Homo sapiens: one gene and its partners. The protein of the gene in region 4 interacts with the protein of the main gene of each other region in a biochemical or structural test. Each region holds a gene or a part of one and is shown on either strand. Other genes may lie near its edges.

The links. The genes of interacting proteins can lie anywhere in the genome.
Region 1: of the proteins of UBE2N (region 4) and RIPK1, one has a biochemical effect on the other in vitro, tested with the Homo sapiens proteins (one study listed by BioGRID).
Region 2: the proteins of UBE2N (region 4) and NEDD4L form a complex in vitro, tested with the Homo sapiens proteins (one study listed by BioGRID).
Region 3: the proteins of UBE2N (region 4) and TRIM72 form a complex in vitro, tested with the Homo sapiens proteins (one study listed by BioGRID).

What each region holds. Positions count from the first base shown.
Region 1 is NC_000006.12:3,098,533-3,103,028, reverse strand, and holds part of RIPK1 (receptor-interacting serine/threonine-protein kinase 1), read right to left. Parts: intron 1-4,496. UniProt on the Homo sapiens protein: Serine-threonine kinase which is a key regulator of TNF-mediated apoptosis, necroptosis and inflammatory pathways.
Region 2 is NC_000018.10:58,046,265-58,050,760, reverse strand, and holds part of NEDD4L (E3 ubiquitin-protein ligase NEDD4-like), read right to left. Parts: intron 3,536-4,496; exon of another isoform or gene 3,251-3,535; intron 1-3,250. UniProt on the Homo sapiens protein: E3 ubiquitin-protein ligase that mediates the polyubiquitination of lysine and cysteine residues on target proteins and is thereby implicated in the regulation of various signaling pathways including autophagy, innate immunity or DNA repair.
Region 3 is NC_000016.10:31,219,658-31,224,153, forward strand, and holds part of TRIM72 (tripartite motif-containing protein 72), read left to right. Parts: intron 1-1,238; coding exon 1,239-1,261; intron 1,262-3,169; coding exon 3,170-3,288; intron 3,289-4,496. UniProt on the Homo sapiens protein: Muscle-specific E3 ubiquitin-protein ligase that plays a central role in cell membrane repair by nucleating the assembly of the repair machinery at injury sites.
Region 4 is NC_000012.12:93,434,690-93,439,992, forward strand, and holds part of UBE2N (ubiquitin-conjugating enzyme E2 N), read right to left. Parts: intron 1-5,303. UniProt on the Homo sapiens protein: The UBE2V1-UBE2N and UBE2V2-UBE2N heterodimers catalyze the synthesis of non-canonical 'Lys-63'-linked polyubiquitin chains. This type of polyubiquitination does not lead to protein degradation by the proteasome.

The DNA.
Region 1 (4,496 bases), on a different chromosome or scaffold from region 4:
ATATAAAAATGGTAAATAAAAAGTGTTGGTAAGATGGTGGAGAAATTAGAATCCTTGTGCATTGCTGGTGGGGAATATAAAATGGTGTAGCTACCATGTAAAACAATTTTAACAGTACTTAAAAGTTAAACATGGCCGGGCATGGGAGCTCACGCCTGTAATCCCAGCACTTTGGGACCTCAGATCACCTGAGGTTAGGAGTTTGAGACCAGCCTGGACAACATGGTGAAACCACCCCATCTCTACTAAAAATACAAAAAACTAGCCGGGCGTGGTGGTGTATGCCTGTAATCCCAGCTACTCGGGAAGGTGAGGCAGGAGAATCGCTTGAACCCGGGAGGCGGAGGTTGCAGTGAGCCGAGATGGTGCCACTGCATTCCAGCCTGGGCAACAGAGGGAGACTCTGTCTCAGAAAAACAAAAAGTTATACATAGAATTACCATATGATCTAGCAATTCCACACCCGGATATATATACCCCAAAGAACTGAAGGCAGGAACTCAAAATATGGTGCAGGTGTAGTATCCCTTATCCAAAATGCTTGGGATTAGAAGTGTTTTGGATTTTGGATTGTTTCCAATTTGGGAATATTTGCATGTACAGAATGACAGATCGTGGGGAGAGGACCTAAGTCTAAACATGAAGTTTATTTGTGTTTCATATGCACCTTATACACATAGCCTGAAGGTCACTTTATACCATATTTTAATAATTTTGTGCATGAAACAAAGTTTGAGGATACTGAACTATCAGAAAGCAGAGGTGTCAGGTGTGGTATTTTCCACTTGTGGCATCATGCTGGCACTCAAAACGTTTCAGATTTTGGAGGATTTTGAATTTTGGATTTTGGGTTTAGGGATGTTCAACCTGTATATCCATATGATGGAATGTTATTCAGCCATAAAAGGGAATGAAATTCTGATACATGCTATGAAACAGATGAACCTTGAAAACATTATGCTAAGTGAAATATGCCAGACTCCAAAGGAAATACATTGTGTGATCCTTTTGCTAGGAGCTACCTAGAATTCAGAGACAGAAAACAGAATAGAAGCTACCAGGGGCTGGGAGAGGGAGGAATGGGGAGTTACCGTTTAGCAGGTACAGAGTTTCAGTTTGGGATGATAAAAAAGTTCTAGATATAGATAGTGGTAATGGCCGCACAACATTATGAATGTACTTAATGCCACTGGATTGTTCACTTAAAAATGGTTAAAATAGAGAATTTTATGTTAAGTATATTTTGCCACAGTAAAAAACTTTTTCCTTATAGGAGCAATAATCCTCATTATAGAAAACATAGAAAATTATATATTCTTAAAACCTATCCATAGTTTTGCCCTACACCCAAAGATAAAATGTTAACACTTTGGTATTTTTCCTTCAAGTTTTTTTTTTCCTAGTTTTATTTGTATTTTGCTGTTAACGATTGTCTGCTATATAAATAAGTGGTCAAAAATACTAGCTAAATGAATACATGCATGATCTAGGGGAGAATGACAGAGGGTATTAATTATGTTCACACTTTGTAGCATTCTATATATTGTTTTTGTCTCTTTGCATGTTTATTTTTAGAGATCAAATCTGCCTCTGTCGCCCAGGCAGGAGTGCAGTGGCATGGTCATAGCTCACTGAAACCTCCAACTCCTGGGCTCAAGCAATCCTCCCAGCTTGTCCTCCCAAAGAGCTGGGATTACAGGCATGAGCCACCTCACCCAGCTGTATGTTTATTGTTTTTAATTAACATGAAAAGGGTTTTTTGTTGTTTTTTTTCTTGAGACAGAGTCTCACTGTGTCCTCCAGGCTAGAGTGCAGGCTCAACCTCCAGGCTCAAGAGAGCCTGCCACCTCAGCCTCCTGTGTAGCTGGGACAACAGGCATGCGCCACCACGCTTGGCTAATTTTTGTGTTTTTTGTAGAGATCGGTTTTTGCCATGTTGCTGGTTTTGAACTGGCCTCAAGAAATCCACCCACCTCAGCCTCCCAAAGTGCTGAGATTACAGGCACGAGCCACCCTGCTTAGCCTAATATGAAAAGTATTTTTGTTATTTTAATTTTATCAAATTGATTTTCTTTTTATAGTTATTTTTATTACACAAATATGTTAAGTACAAAGTCCTTTTGAAAGATTCAAACAGGCCAGACATGGTGGCTCACGCCTGTAATCCCAGCACTCTAGGAGGCCGAGGCGAGCAGATCGCTTGAGGTCAGGAGTTCAAGACCAGCCTGGCCAACATGGTGAAACCCCATCTCTACTAAAAGTACAAAAAAATTAGCTGGGTGTGGTGGTACACGCCTGTAATCCCAGCTACTCGGGAGGCTGAGGCACGAGAATCACTTGAACCCGGGAGGTGGAGGTTGTAGTGAGCCCAGATTGTGTCACTGCACTCCAGCCTGGGTGACAGAGTAAGACCGTCTCAAAAAGAAAACCAAAAAAACCCCCAAAGATTCAAACAATGCAGAATCACATAGAATAACATCCAAACATTCCTTCAGCACCTACTCTTCCATTCTCTAGAGGTAAGCCTTATCCAGAGTGTGATGCATATCACTCTTATTCTCTCTCTAGGAATTTGCACACACATTCCAGAAATATATATATATTTGAGACACAGTTTCACTCTGTTGCCCAGGATGGAGTGTAGTGGCACAATCTTGGCTCACTGCAACCTCCACCTCCCGGGTTCAAGCAATTCTCATGCCTCAGCCTCCTGAGTAGCTGGGATTATGGACATGCACCACCATACCTGGCCAGTTTTTTTTGTATTATTAGTAGAGACGGGGTTTTACCATGTTGGCCAGCTGGTCTCCAACTCCTCACCTCAAGTGATCTGTACAACTCCGCCTCCCATAGTGCTGGAATTACAGGCATGAGCCACTGCACCAGGCCAAAATATATATATCTTTAACATTAAAAGGACCACACTGTAAGTATTGTTTTGTGACTTATTTTTTTCACTAACAGCTAATCTTGAAGATCTTTCTATATCATTACATGTTAGTTTCCACCTCTTTCTTTTAAATGGCTATTAGTATTCTGTAGTTTAGATGAATCATAATTTAGGGCAGTTACTTATGGACATTTGAGTTGTTTCTAATTTTTCACTCTTATAAACTAAGGTGCAAAGAATGGAAACTACATCTTTGAGTGCACGTGAGCAGTATAGATTACTGAGAGTAGAACTGCAGCCAAACTTATGGGCTTGTGGAGTTTGTTGGGTGCCTCACCTTCTAATAAACTTCGCCACTCTTACCAACACTGCAGAAGACTGCTTGTTATTCTGCATTTTCACCAACACACTGTATCACTAATCTTTCAAAAATTTCAATCTAATGGATGAAAAATTGTAACGGGTTCATTTTGCCTTTCTCTGTTGGCGAGGCCAAATATCTTTTCTGAAGTATGTTGTTCAGTTTCTTTTTTGAATTGTCTATGTTCTTTGTCTATTATTTTTCTTTTATTTTGGTTTTTTTGTTTGTTTTTTTGAGACGGAGTCTCACTTTGTCACCCAGGCTGGAGTGCAGTGGCTCCATCTCGGCTCACTGCAAGCTCCGCCTCCTGGGTTCACACCATTCTCCTGCCTCAGCCTCCCAAGTAGCTGGGACTGCAGGTGCCTGCCACCACGCCTGGCTAATTTTTTGTATTTTTAGTAGAGATGGGGTTTCACCATGTTAGCCAGGATGGTCTCGATCTCCTGATCTCGTGATCCACCAGCCTCGGCCTCCCAAAGTGCTGGGATTACAGGCGTCAGCCACCGCACCCGGCCTATTTTTGTTTTTTATTTGTAGGCACTCTATTAAATATCCTGGATATTAATCCTTTGCTAAACACAATTTCTCCTTTTTGACTACCTTTCCATTTTCATGAAGTCATATACAATAATCTTTTTCTTTATACCTTGCGAATTTTGTGTGTGGCTTAAGAAACATACATGGATTGATTTTGGACTTTGTGGTAGACACAGTGATGGGCCTCTCAGATTCCCCCTCAAGGAGGGATTTGCTGCCCTGTTGCAAGGAGCTGAGTGAACAAACAGCCTGCAGCTGTGAACTCCTTTGCCCCAGGTACTCCCCTTCTGAGCCAGTGACTGAGAAAGGCGAGGGGATAAAGCCTTGGCCATTTCAGTCTGACGTGGGACAAGCCTGAGGGGCATTTGCTCAGTGCTCCCGGCTGCCAGAGCTGTCAGGCTTCGTTGCCTTCTGACTTCTTCCTCTGCTCATTCCTGCTTCCCACTCCTTCCTTGCACCCCAATCTCCAACTCAGTGGCTGCTTCTGGAAAACCCAACCTGCAAAGACTCACCTTTTCTATTAATCTATTTGATTATCCTTGCTGTAGTCTACACTGTTCTGATCTCCTCCTTCAGAATTTTCTTAGCTATCTTTGTACATTTTGTGTAACTTAAGAGTCAGCTTGTTGAATTCCATAAAGAATTTGGTTGTGCTTTTAATTAGGATTGCACTCCTTTTATAAATCATGTTGGGGAGAATAGACAGCT
Region 2 (4,496 bases), on a different chromosome or scaffold from region 4:
ATTTTTAGTTTTGCTCTTGTTGCCCAGGCTGGAGCACAATGGCCCGAACTTGTCTCACTGCAACCTCTGCCTCCCAGGTTCAAGCAATTCTCCTGCCTCAGCCTCCCGAGTAACTGGGATTACAGTTGCCTGCCACCAAGCCCAGCTAATTTTTGTATTTTTAGTAAAGACGGAGTTTCACCATGTTGGCCAGGCTGGTCTCAAACTCCTGACCTCAGGTGATCCTCCAGCCTCGGCCTCCCAAAGTGCTGGGATTACGGGCATGAGCCACTGCCCCAGCCTGTTATTATTGTGACAGAGTCTCACTCTGTCACCCAGTCTGGAGTGCAGTGGTGCGATCTCGGCTCACTGCAATCTCTGCCTTCAGGGTTCAAGCTATTCTCCTGCCTCAGCCTCCAGAGTAGCTGGGATTACAGGTGTCCACCACCACACCCAGCTGATTTTTTTTTCATTTATTTATTTATTTATTTTGTAGAGACAGGGTTTCACCATGTTGGCTGGGCTGGTCTCAAACTCCTGACCTCAAGTGATCCACCAGCCTTGGCCTCCAACGTGCTGGGATTACAGATGTGAGCCACTATGTCTGGCCTGAGCAAAATTATTTTTATTCCTTAAATTAAGGAAACTGATGTTCAATAATGAAATAAACAATCATAACATTCTGATTTAATAAAACTAAATATAATGAAAATTCAAATGTCAATGTCTACAAATTCCACAGACACTACATCATTGAAGAAAATAAATTCTATTCATTAGTCTTTTTTTTTTTTTTTTTTTTTTTGGAGACAGGGTCTCACTCTGTCGCCCAGGCTAGAGTGCAGTGGCATGATCTTGGCTCACTGCAACCTCTGCCTCCAGGTTTAAGTGATCCTTCCACCTCAGCCTCCCAAGTAGCTGGGACTACAGGCACGTGCCGCCATGTTTGGCTAACTTTTCTATTTTTTGTAGAGACGGGGTTTCACCACGTTGCCCAGCCTGGCCTCAAACTCCTGAACTCAAGTGATTCTCCTGCCTCGGCCTCCCAAAATGCTAGGATTACAGGAGTGATCACTGCACCCGGTCCCTATAATCAAATTTTAAAACAACATGTTATATTCATGAATTTTAAAAACTGATTTTAAATGTCACCATGAAAACTAGGTCCTTTTAACATTTGTTTCTCAAACATTACCTATATGTCCTGGGTATACAGTCTACCATCCAGCATCTAGGCCCGACACAGGCACTTGGACTTGGCATGACTGGGCAAGCCTTCTCTCTCTTCAGAAAACGGCCTGTCAGCATTCACCTTGAGATCCAAGCAAAATCTAAACCACAATTTTTGAAAGCAATCTTGTCCTCACCGTTTTGCACAGCTGCAAAGATGGCACATAGGGTTTCCCAAGTAATCTCTTGAAAATACACACAGGCCACTTTTTAAAAACTAACAACTATTCTTAATCACTTACAGACGGCCATCCAGTTGGCTATGATCTAGGCCCCCAGTTCCTTCTGTGCTAATGCCTATTTAAGAGCACTTCTCTTTTTCTAGCACTTTCCTCAAACACAGAAAAGCAGAAATCTGACTACTCGTTGACTTAAAAGTACTGAATGATTGGGGATATTGAAACTGATGGCATGGAGTTTTCCCAGGTTTCTAGTCACTGTAATTCATCAATTCTAAAATATCCTTTTTCTCATATTTCAACTTCTCTGAAATAAGGATGCTTCATAAGATGGACAGTATGTCATAACTTGACAGCAATTTTTTCTTCGTGGTACATGAAATAATGGCATATCTTAAAAGTGACAGCACACTAAAGTGAAAGAAATATGGCATCCACGCCAAAGGTTAGCCTTAAAGGTTTGTTATGAAGTGGATAATTATATGTAAACAAGTAGAAAGACCCCTAAGACAACAGAAAGTAGTGGTGACTGCAACCATAGCACAACTAGCTGCCACATCTCAAAGGACATAATGCCAGCCACTGACTGTAACTAGGTTAGAATGTGGCCCCAATTAAGCCAGATTTTTACCATTTTCATGAAATTTCCAAGCTTTAAAACACTCTAGAGACCACATTAAGCAGGGTTCCTGGTCAAATCGGGCCCAGCAGCCATCAGTTTGCAACCAGTGGTGTTTATTTCTCTTACATTATCTTAAATAATCTAGATAGTAAGACCTTTCAAGGCATTTGTCAGAAGGGGAGGATATTCAGCATGTTAAAAACTAGGCCTTTCTATTCAAAATAGCTGGCTCCATAACTTAACTTGTTTTGTGTCCTTATGCAGGTCACGTAACCTCTTTGAGCTTTCATTCCTCATCTGTAAATCACAGCCTACCTCACACAGTTCTCATGAGAACTAAATGACATAGTATGTGCACAAGGCTTAGCACTTTGCTCTCATGGCGCATCTTAAAAGTGACAGCATCTTAAACTGAAAAGCATACAGGATCCATGCCAAAAGTTAACCTTAATGGTTGATTAAGAAGTAGATAATTATATGTAAATGAGTAGAAAGACCCCCAAGCCAGCAGGGAGCCGTGGTGACTGGCACCTATAAGCAGATCTGCCACATCTCAAAGGACATAATGCAAGCCACTGATTGTGACTAGGCTAGAATGTGGCCCCAATTAAGCCGGATTTTTACCATTGGTATAGAAGAGGCATTCAAAAGTAGCCAACTATCCGTGTTTGTACAGGATAAGGAGAGAAGGTGCCATTTATCCTATGTCAGCCTGGCCTTCATTTCTATGCCATTTGCTTCATTTTAACTACTAACGAAATTACTTAATGTCATATCTAATGTGATAAGAAGCTGCCATTCAATCCCAGTATTTTGTTCAGTAGAAAAATCTTTTCAATAAATGATACCTTTCTAAAATGGAATAAAAGATTTCAGAAAGTTAGCGGTAACATTCATAAGTAAACTATGCCAAAATGCACTACAGATTGCCAAAAATAAAGAAATAAAACAAGAAATCCACAAGGACTCAAGCCAGATGCAGAAACTAGTCCAAAGTGTTCTGATTCCAAACCAAATCTGATCTTGGGCCATGAATCAGAAGTTTTGTTAAACTGCTAATCCCTCTAACACCAAAAGTCCTTCATCTGATGGTTTTGAATCTGGCTACCTAAAGTGACATGACTTAAATCAGGGTAAATATGAATTATAACTCACCAGAGAAACCTCCGCCCGAAACACACAGAAAAAATTAAACAGCACATACATTCACACAAGCAAAGCCCACATCTCAACCCCTTACCTTCTACAAAGTGGACAGACCTCTGCTGATGACGCAAGGAACAGCACCTAAGCCCTGTGCTTTGGCATCCCCGTTTTCTGGGTTCATGCAATGCTTCATCATCAGCAGTGCAGAGAGCTCAACAGTCTTTATGAGATGGGACATAACTAAGTGCACTCCAAACATACCATGCTTTTCAACAATCTCAAATCAAAATACGAATCTACTTTTAAGAAATGTGGTAGGTATGTGTGTCTACTTTGCTAAAAGATTTATGAGGTCACTCTTCTAAATAGCGGTCAAAATATCTTCATATGTGATATTCTGCAGCACACCAAGTCTGCAAACTAAGTGTACCCATATTTAATACGCCTTGGAAGAACAACCCTGCCGTTTGCTTCAGCGGGCATTCTACTTTCAGAGCCTGCTAAAATCTTCCATTGGTTTTTCTTACACATACTAATTCAGGGAGACAAAACAAGCTGTGCAAATTCAACAATTTGTCGTTAATATTCTACGAAGGCATTCCCTGATTCTCTGAAGGGCAACGTGACAGCATGAAACTGCCCATGAAAAACAAATACCAATGAAATGTGAAGTCATCAGAACTGCCCTGGCTTATTTTTTCACTGGTAGGAGAAAGTTGAAAAAGGAAGACGGCTGAGACTCATCTTGTGAAATACAATGTGTGTGGAACTAAATACTACCAGCGACATGGCAATAAATAGATAATAAAAGGTGTCTTCATCACCTCTTGCTATTTCCTATACAGCCCCAAATTCCCTTCTAGCAACATGCAGGAGTGAATCCAGTCACATGCCAACACACACTCGGACTCTGTTTACATTCCAAGCTTCACTTTCACACTAGACATCAGTTATGATGATTAGTAGTGACTCCTGTGGACAAAAGTGGCAAGATGTGCTCTAGGTAGATTCTGACACTCACTGCCAATGTAAATAAAGCACAAACAACAGTGACATTAACGTGTTTCATTTATCCAGCTGCACTTCCCAAAACACTCTTAAAATCGTTTTTTCGGGGGAGTTTTTACAAATAATCATGTTATTAAAACATTTTTTAAAAGAACCTAGGATGAAATGCAGCTGTCCTCACCCCCACCCCCCACAATACGTCAACCCAAGCAGCCCCTTTGTTTAGGAATGTCTGCGTCTCTGCAACTCAGGGCCTGCCCTCTACTGCCACTAATTAAATGGAGAAGTAGAGGATGCAAGGGAAAGCTCCTCAAAGAGAGAAGCCAGGAGGG
Region 3 (4,496 bases), on a different chromosome or scaffold from region 4:
CTATATGGTTGTTTAGGTTGAGCACTGCATAAGGACATTGTATTAAGTGAGCACTATTCATATCATAGACATTGTAGGTTTATATATTTATTAGGACACTCTTATTTTTATTTTTTATTTTTTGAGATGGAGTCTTACTCTGTCACCCAGGCTGGAGTGCAGTGGCAGGATCTTGGCTCACTGCAAGCTCCGCCTCCTGGGTTCATGCTATTCTCCTGCCTCAGCCTCCCGAGTAGCTGGGACTACAGGCACCCGCCACCACGCCTGGCTAATTTTTTCTATTTTTCAGTAGAGACAGGGTTTCACCGTGTTAGCCAGGATGGTCTTGATCTCCTGACCTTGTGATCCACCTGCCTTAGCCTCCCAAAGTGCTGGGATTACAGGCGTGAGCCACCGCGCCTGGTCTTTTTTTTAAAGGCAGGGTCTCACTCTGTCACCCAGGCTGGAGTGCAGTGGCATGATCATAGCTCACTGCAGCCTTGTAGGCTCAAGCAATCCTCCAATCTCAGCCTCCCATAGCTGGGACTACAGGCGCTTACCTGGCTAGTTTTTGTATTTTTAGTAGAGATGGGGGTCTCATTATGTTGCCCAGACTGGTCTCAAATGCCTGGGCTCAAACAATCTGCCTGCCTTGGCCTCCCAAAGTGCTGGGATTACAGGCATGAGTCACCGCACCCGGCCTATTAGGACAGTTTTCTAACAGGTGGAATCAGAGTTTCTTGGAGGCAAAGATACCTTTTTGTAATCCACATAAAAGTGAAGGGGTAGGGGTGGCCTTGAGTTCTAGGTCTCTTTTGCGTTTTTTTTTTTTTTTTTTTTTTTTTTTTTTGAGACAGGGCTTTGCTCTGTTGCCCAGGCTGGAGTGCAGTGGCATGACTTCGGCTCACTGAAACCTCCTTCTCCCGGGTTCAAGTGATTTTCGTGGCTCAGCCTCCCAAGTAGCTGGGATTACAGGTGCCTGCCACCATGCCCAGCTATTTTTTTTGTATTTTTAGTAGAGATGGGGTTTCACCATGTTGGCCAGGCTGGTCTCGAACTCCTGGCCTCAAGCAATCCACACACCTTGGCCTCCCAAAGTGTTGAGATTACAGGCATGAGCCACCTCGTCTGGCCTCTTTTAGCTTTTCTGATTCTTTCTGACGTTGCACTCAGCATTCCTAGTTGTCTACCCCATCCTCAAAAGTTTCCAGTGTCCCCACCATCGGCTTCACCACCATTCTCTTTTTCTCTCTCTCCAGAAATACTGCCTGGTGACCAGCAGGTGAGAGCAACCTGGCCCTGTCCCTTTGCCCGACTTGTCCCAGTCTTCTAGGGACACCAGCCGGCTCACTCTCCACTCACTATTGTGCCTGCACACCCGCAATTCAGTCTGCTGCCCCACCCCTGCCTGAACACAAGGTTGTAGACAGAAATGATCTGGAAGGATCCTTTCACTCAGGGACCTCCTAGATTGGTGCCGTGAGACACATGTGGGTGGGGACACAGGCGTCACTGTGTGCTCAGTGTGGCCGTTGAGGGAAAGAGGTGGCCAGGGATGGAGTGAATGTTTGAGTTGGGGCCTGGAGGGATGAACAGGAGCTGGCTAGGCAAAGCGTTGGGAGAAGAAGGGCATTGTGAGGAGAAAGGCATTGCGGGGAGAAGGGCATTGCTGAGAGAAGAAGGGTATTGCTGGGAGAAGAACATTGCTGGGAAAAGAAGGGCATTGCTGGGAGAAGGGCATTATGGGGAGAAGGGCATTGCGGGGAGAAGGGCACTGCTGGGAGAAGGGCATTGCTGGGAGAAGGGCATTTCTGGGAGAAGAAGGACATTGCTGGGAGAAGAAGGGCATTGCTGGGAGAAGGGCATTATGGGGAGAAGGGCATTGCAGGGAGAAGGGCATTGTGGGGAGAAGGGCATTGTGGGGAGAAGGGCACTGCGGGGAGAAGGGCATTGCTGGGGAGAAGGGCATTGGGAGAAGGGCATTGCTGGGAGAAGGGCATTGCTGGGAGAAGAAGGGCATTGCTAGGAGAAGGGCATTGCTGGGAGAAGAAGGGCATTGTGGGGAGAAGGGCATTGCGGGGAGAAAGGCATTGCTGGGAGAAGAAGCGCACTGTGGGGAGAAGGGCATTGCTGGGAGAAGGGCATTGCTGGGAGAAGGGCATTGCGGGGAGAAGGGTATTGCTGGGAGAAGAAGGGCATTGCAGAGAGAAGGGCATTGTGGGGAGAAGGGCATTGCAGGGAAAAGGGCGTTGCTGGGAGAAGGGTGTTGCTGGCAGAAGGGTGTTGCTGGGAGAAGGGCATTGCTGGGAGAAGGGTGTTGCTGGGAGAATGGCATTGCTGGGAGAGGGGACAGCCAGCGAGAGGGCTGGCGAGTGGGAGGGAAGAGGAAGCTGCGGTAGTAGGTGTGTGCACACTGGCGAAGCTGAGAGGCTTGGACCTTATCCCAACAGAAGGATTAAAAGAAAATGTAGTTGGGCCGGGTGCAGTGGCTCACGCCTGTCATCCAAGCACTTTGGGAGGCTGAGGCGGGCAGATCACCTGAGGTCAGCAGTTCGAGACTAGCCTGGCCAACATGGCAAAACCTCACCTCTACTAAAAACACAAAAATTAGCCAGGCATGGTGGTAGGCGCCTATAATCCCAGCTACTTGGTTGGCTGAGGCAGGAGAATTGCTTGAACTGGGGAGGCAGAGGCTGCAGTGAGCCAAGATCATGCCACTACACCCCAGCCTGGGTGATAGAGCCAGACTCAATCTCAAAAAAAAAAAAAAAAGACCAAAACCAAATAAACAGTGGTAAAATAATACATGTAACATAAAATTGACAATTTTCAGCTTCTTCTTCTTCTTTTTTTTTTTTTTTTAGACAGGATCTTGCTATGTTGCCCAGACTGGACTCAAATTTCTGAGCTCCAGTGAGCCTCCTGAGTCAGCCTCCCTGAGCAGCTGGGACTACACTCTACCTCGCTCATTTTAAGCATTTTTAAGTGTGCATTTAAATTCAGTGGTGCTAAGTACATTCACATTGTACAACCATCACCAGTGTTTATCTCCAGAATTTTCTCATCTTCCCAAACCAAAACTCCAAAGGAAGAGTTTTAAGCAGGGGTGCGATGTGGGGAGATCCTGGAATCCCCCCAGCCCTTGTCCTCCCCCCTCACACATGCCTCCCCTTCCCCTCCCCACCCCCAGGCTGCAGAAGATCCTGGCAGAGTCTCCCCCACCCGCCCGTCTGGACATCCAGCTGCCAATTATCTCAGATGACTTCAAATTCCAGGTGTGGAGGAAGATGTTCCGGGCTCTGATGCCAGGTACCGGGAGGGACTGGCTCAGGTTTGTGTGTGACCAGGCAGTTGATGGGAGGCCCTAGCCACCCTGGAGAGGCCTCCCAGTCCCAACTGGGGAGGCCACTGAAGGAGGTACCCATTGCCCCTTTGCCTCTGGACTGCCGCTGCAGTCCTCTAACCTGTGTTGGGAGGAGGGCCTTTGAGAGCATGGGGTTTGCAGTGGGTGACTGACATGAAAATGCTGCTGCTGTTGGTGGCACGGGACGCTGGGGCCTAGGTCTGAGCCACTGACTTGCTGTGTGATCCTTGGTCAGTCTCTGCCCCTCTCTGGACGGTGGAGATGATAAATCCTGCCAATTGGGGACTGAGGCTCTGCAGAGCTCCTGGAACCCTGGGGACTGGCCTGGGTCAGAGAGTGACTCTGGCGGCCTGTGGCTGGGGAGGCCCAAGGGCTCAGTTCCTCCCCCCAAGAGCTGGATGATGCAGGTTACAGAGCTCTGGGACATACACATTGCTGGGGCAGCCCTTCCTGCCTCAGCGCAGGTGGGAATGCAGACAGCCTCATTTTATTCAAGATAAAACTAAGGCTCAGAGACTGGGTCTAGGCTGATGTGAAGATCAGGCTCCTTGACCTTGGGCCTTGGGCCTTGTCTGGGCCTCAGATGGTGAGTCCCATGCCTTGTATCAATTTAGTCCTGTTGGCCAGGCTCGGTGGCTCACGCTTGTAATCCCAGAACTTTGGGAGGCCGAGGTGGGAGGATCACTTGAGCCCAGGAGTTGGAGACCAGCCTGGGCAACATAGTGAGAACACCTGTCTCTACAAAAACTTAAAAAAATTAGCCAGGTGTGGTGGCACGTGGCTGTAGTCCCAGCTACTTGGGAGATGGGAGATGGGAGGATTGCTTGAGCCTGGGAGTTGGAAGTTGCAGTGAGCCTAGGTTGCACCTGCGCTCCAGCCTGGGCGACAGAGTGAGACCCCGCCTCAAAAAAACAAAAAACAAAAACAAAAAACAACAACAATAACAACAACAAAAACAAAAAGAAAATGCAGGCCTGCCTGCAACCCTGGAGGGAAGCAATCATGGCCTCATCTCACAGCTGGGCAAACTGAAGTTGAGCCAGGTGTGATCTTGTGGCCCAAGCCCAGTGAGCAGAGATGCCAAGAGGATTAGGGGAGAGAAAGCTGGCCTGCAATTGGTTGGGAGAAGACCCCAGCGAGGCAGAAACCTAGG
Region 4 (5,303 bases):
AGAATCTGAATCCCCAGAAGTCATACGTTAAAAAAAATAGCTTTTTTTCCTAGGAAGAGGTCAGAAAATTCTTAAGTGAGACAACTGAAAGAACTAAAGAACCACTGTTCCTAGTCAAATTTTTTACAAGTTTTTTCTTAAATTCCAAAGGTGATTTTAATTACAACTTATAACAAATCTGTCTTCATCATAATGAGTTTGTATTTATTTATTTATTTATTTATTTATTTAAGAGACAGGGTCTTGCCTCTATTACCCAGGCTGGGGTGCAGTGGTGCCACTAATAGCTCACTGCAGCCCCGGCCTCCTGGATTCAAGGGATCTTCCTGCCTCAGTCTTCTGTTAGGATTACTGCATGAACCACCATACCTGGCTAAGTTTCCCTGCCCCCACCTGGAGGTACATATATTTCTGAAACATCATGGTAACTTTTCCATGCCTTTTTTTAATTGGAAGAAAACATTATCAGACAAGTATTTTCAGAGCTTAAAACAACAGATAGGACAGGCGCGGTGACTCACACCTGTAGTTCCAGCACTTTGGGAGGCCGAGGTGGGCAGATCACCAAAGGTCAGGAGTTCGAGACCAGCCTGACCAACATGGTGAAACCCTGCCTCTACTAAAAATACAAAAATCAGCTGGGCGTGGTGGCATACACCTGTAATCCCAGCTACTAGGGAGGCTGAGGCAGGAGAATTGCTTGAACCCAGGGGGCAGAGGTTGCAGTTAGCCGAGATCACGCCATTGCACTCCAGCCTGGGCAACAAAAGCAAAACTTCATCTCAAAATAAGAAAAAAAAAATGTTCAAGGCAGAGAGTAAAGCTACTCCAGTGGCTGAGGCAGGAGAACTGCTTGAACCTGGGAGGCAGAGGTTGTAGTAAGCCGAGATTGTGCCATTGCACTCCAGGCTGGGCAACAAAGCAAGACTCCCGTCTCAAATAAATAAAAGGTGAGTTTTCTAAATCACTTTTCTTACAAAAAAAAATACCTTATGCACTAGAATACCTATCAAATGAGTGGCTTTTAAACAGTAACAGGAAAAAATGTGTGTACTTCAAAAAATCCTATTAAAAAAGTAAACTCAAGTCTCAATGTAAAATCAGACTGTATCTGATTTTTAAGAATTTGAGGCTAAATCACACCAAATAGAAGAGTAAATTTTTCCACTGCACTTCAGCCTGGGTGACAGAGACCCTGTTTCAAAAAATTAATTAAATGTATTTTCTTAAGTAAATTTTTAAGCACCATAGACAAGGGACCAGTGGGGAAGGGAGACATAAAGTAAATTCTGCGAAAGACTGGTAAAATTCTAATTCCAGCAGGTTGACTCACTAGGTTTTAATCAAATAAGTCAACCCCTAGGGTAAGTTAACTACTTTTTCCCAAGACTGTATTTTATCATTTTCATTATTATCATTATTACTATTTTGAGACAGGGTTTCACTCTGTCGCCCAGGCTGGAGTGCAGTGGCGCGATCTAGGCTCACTGCAGCCTCAACTTCCTGGGCCAAACCAATCCTCCCACCTGTCTCCTGAGTAGCTGGGACTACAGATGTGTGCCACAACACCTGGCTAATTTTCATTTTATCTTTTTGTAGAGACAAGGTCTCATTATGTTGTACAGCCCAGTCTTGAAACCTTGGGCTCAGGGGATCCTCCCGCCTCAGCCTCCCAAAGTACTGAGATTATAGGCATGAGCCACAGTGCTCAGCCCTCATGATTAATTCTGAAAAGACCATTAAAGGAATGTCAGTCACTGTATCAACGTAACATGTAAAGCTGAAACAGATTTGGTTTTGACCAAGGCCATAACTATAGATCTCACTTATCGGTTCCCGAAAGTGATTCTCCTTTATGACAGGATTATGCAGAACCTCTCATTTGAGGGACATTTTAGGTACCTCCTAACCTTTATGACTTTAAGCTTTAACTGCTCACTTTTTTTTTTTTGGTGGAGATGGAGATCTCACTATGTTCCTCAGGCTGGTCTCAACTCCTGGCTTCAAGCAATCCTTGGGCCTCAGTCTCCCAAAGAGCTGTTATTACAGGTGTGAACCACCATGCCCAGCTTCAGTCACTTTTATTGGCTAAAAGAGCTTTGGTCCAGAAGATAAGGCAGAAAAACGAAACTAAAGATTCTAGCTTAAAACAGAACTACTAAGACTCAATATCACTCACACTTGTGCAAAATGCCATACATACAAAACTTCGTTACAGCATTTTTTATATAGCACAATTTAGGAAACATTCTGAAAGTTATGAATAAGCAATTAGTTACAATAAAGTCTAGGCCAGGCACGGTGGTTCATGCCTGTTAACCCTAGCACTTTGGGAGGCCGAGGTGGAAGAATCACTTGAGCCTAGGAGCTCGAGAACAGCCTAGGCAACATGGCAAGACCCCATCTCTACTGAAAAAGTATTAAATTTCCAATATTTGAAAAAATAAAATAAAGTCTAACCATAAGGTTCCATTAAACAGCCCTTTGAGAAAAAAAAAAGAGCCAAAGCAGAACACTATGATGCATGTCTGTAATCCCAGATACTGGAGGCTGAAGGTAGAGATCACCTGATATTAGGAATTCGAGGCTGTATGTATATAGTGTACTATGATCACGCCTGTGAAAAGCCACTGCACTCCAGCCTGGGCAACAAAGCAGCAGTCTGTCTCTTAAAAAAAAAAAAAAGTCAACTTGAAGATACATAGGTGGTTAGAGGGGAAGAGAAGGGAATCAAGGTATTTGCATGAGAAGGAGAAGACGCCTAACTTATAGCAGAAAGTTGCTCTGGTCTTCTTGTAAGGATACACAATAAAAATAGTGGTTGAAGTCGGGTGCAGTGGCTCACACCTGTAATCCTAGCACTTTGGGAGGCTGAGGCAGGTGGATCACTTGAGAAGAGGAGTTTGAGACCAGCATGGCCAACATGGTGAAACCCCATCTCTACTAAAAATTAGCCAGGTGTGGTGGCACATGCCTGCAGTCTCAGCTACTTAAGAGACTGAGGCAGGAGAATCACTTGAACCTGGGAGGTGGAGTTTGCAGTGAGCCAAAATTGCACCACTGCACTCCAGCCTGGGCAACAGGGGGAGACTCCGTCTCAACAAACAAACAAACAAACAAAAACAGTGGTTTTCTAAGCAGGGGAACTGGAATGCTGAAGGACAGATGAGGGATTCTCTACGTATCCTTCAGAGCCTTTCAAATGTGCTCTATGTGTGCATTTCCTAGTTAATAAAAAAAGATACATAAGCAGAGTAGGCACACAAAAAAGAAATAATGTAAAAGATTGATGTCCTTTTTAAGTGAGCTTATGGGTGGAAAACGAGACTAGCTTTAACTTTTAGCTCAGACATTGGTTCAGACAGAATATACCAAGGAGTAACAATGTCAAATTATTGCTCATTGAGATTAAGGCTCATCTATTCAGTTAGTCTATTAATATTTCAGTATCTACTATGTGCCAAGGATTGGTCTAGGCACGAATGAGCAATGCCCGGGATATCCAAGAGTCCCTAACTTCATGAAGGTTTAATGGGGAATAGAGAGAAATAAACAGTAAATAACATAACTTCGAACAGTAATAAGCACTTATACAGAAGAAAGGGAGATAGGAGGATAAAATTGTGGGGGAGGAAAAAGGGAAACTGGTTTATACGGGACAGGTTAGGTAGAGGGTATGACATATGAGCTAAGAACGGAACAACTGGACAAAGCAAGCAATGCAACAAACTGGAGGAAAGTCCTGTGACTGGAATAAGCTCAACCACTTATTGTTCAGGGTACAGCAAAGCAACAGTGTGGCTACAGTGGAGTGACCCAGAGAGAGAAGTGCAGATGCGCTCAGAAGTAGGCATCCCAAATGAATGCAGGGCCTTATAGCTAAGGGGTGGGGGGGAAGGCAAGATTCTAATGTAAGTGTGATGGAGAACCTCTACAGTTTTTAGCAGGGGAGTAACATGGTCTATATTTTAAGAAGATAACACTAGCTGCTGCTCCAAAGTAGGCTAATACAGGAGGCCAGGCAGTAAATGATGGAAGTGAACAGAGGTTTGAAAGACAGGGGGGAAAGTGTCTGATTTAGTACATATATTGAAAGCAGAACCTACAGAATTTGCTACTGGATTAGATACAGGAATCTAAATGAGATAGCAACTGGGTGAATAGTAGTCCAGAAAATCATCTTGTATTTGTAGTTAGTCATTTTACAGTAACAAGAGACAGGGGAATGTTACACTAATCAAGATCCAAATTCTGCCTCTTACCAGCTTTACCTTAGGAAAGTCATTTAAGTCAGTTTCTAGACTGCAAAATATATTGTCTAGTTCACAAAAATGTCTGTAAGAATCAAATGGTTAAGAAATCTACAAATGTAAATAGTGATCATTATAAGTTAGAAAGCATCATATTAACAGTCATGCAAATCAAGCCACCTTATTTTAACATTTTCATTAGATGAGAATGCTAACACTGATGTTATATCAACACTAAATTTCATCCTTTGAAAGTCAAAGGTCAGGCGGGGCACAGTGGCTCACGCCTGTGATCCCAGCACTGTGGGAGGCTGAAATGGGTGGATTGTGTGAGGTCAAGAGTTTGAGACCAGCCTGGGCAACATGGCGAAACCCCGTCCCTACAAAAATTAGCTGGGTGTGGTGGCATGCACCTTGCAGTCCCAGCTATTGAAGAGGCTTAAGTGGGAGGATCATCTAAGACCAGGAGATCAAGGCTGTGGTAAGCCATGATCCTGCCACTGCACTGCAGCCTGGGAGCGGAGTGAGACGAGTCTCAAGAAAAGAAAACAGAAAGAAAAGAAGAAAGTCAAAGATCACCCAGAAATAAAACAAATTAACAGTCCAATCAACAAAGTCATGTCCCTATTGCCTCAGGACAATACCGTTACCCCCATCCACCACACAGAAGTTTGTATAGTGATTGACAGAAAAGAGGCAACTTTTAAAAATAAATTCTGATTTTTTTTAAAGCATTGTCACTGATTATGGAACAACCTACATAACACAAGCATGGACACTTTTAAAAATCTAGTCTTTTAGTCTTCTGTTTAAGGATTAGAGAAAACCATCCTTTTAAGCTATAAATGACACTAAACTAGTAAGATAAAACCCAAATCAAGGTGTCATTCATTAGATAGATGTTGTCAACAAGATACCGTAAAATTAAGATTATATATCACAGTATGAGTTACTGTCTTAGTTTCAACAGCAAAATGTAAATGCCCAGTGTAAATTACTGTGTGCCAAATGGATTGAATCATGAGGACTTCAACTTATTGCCTTAAACCATTT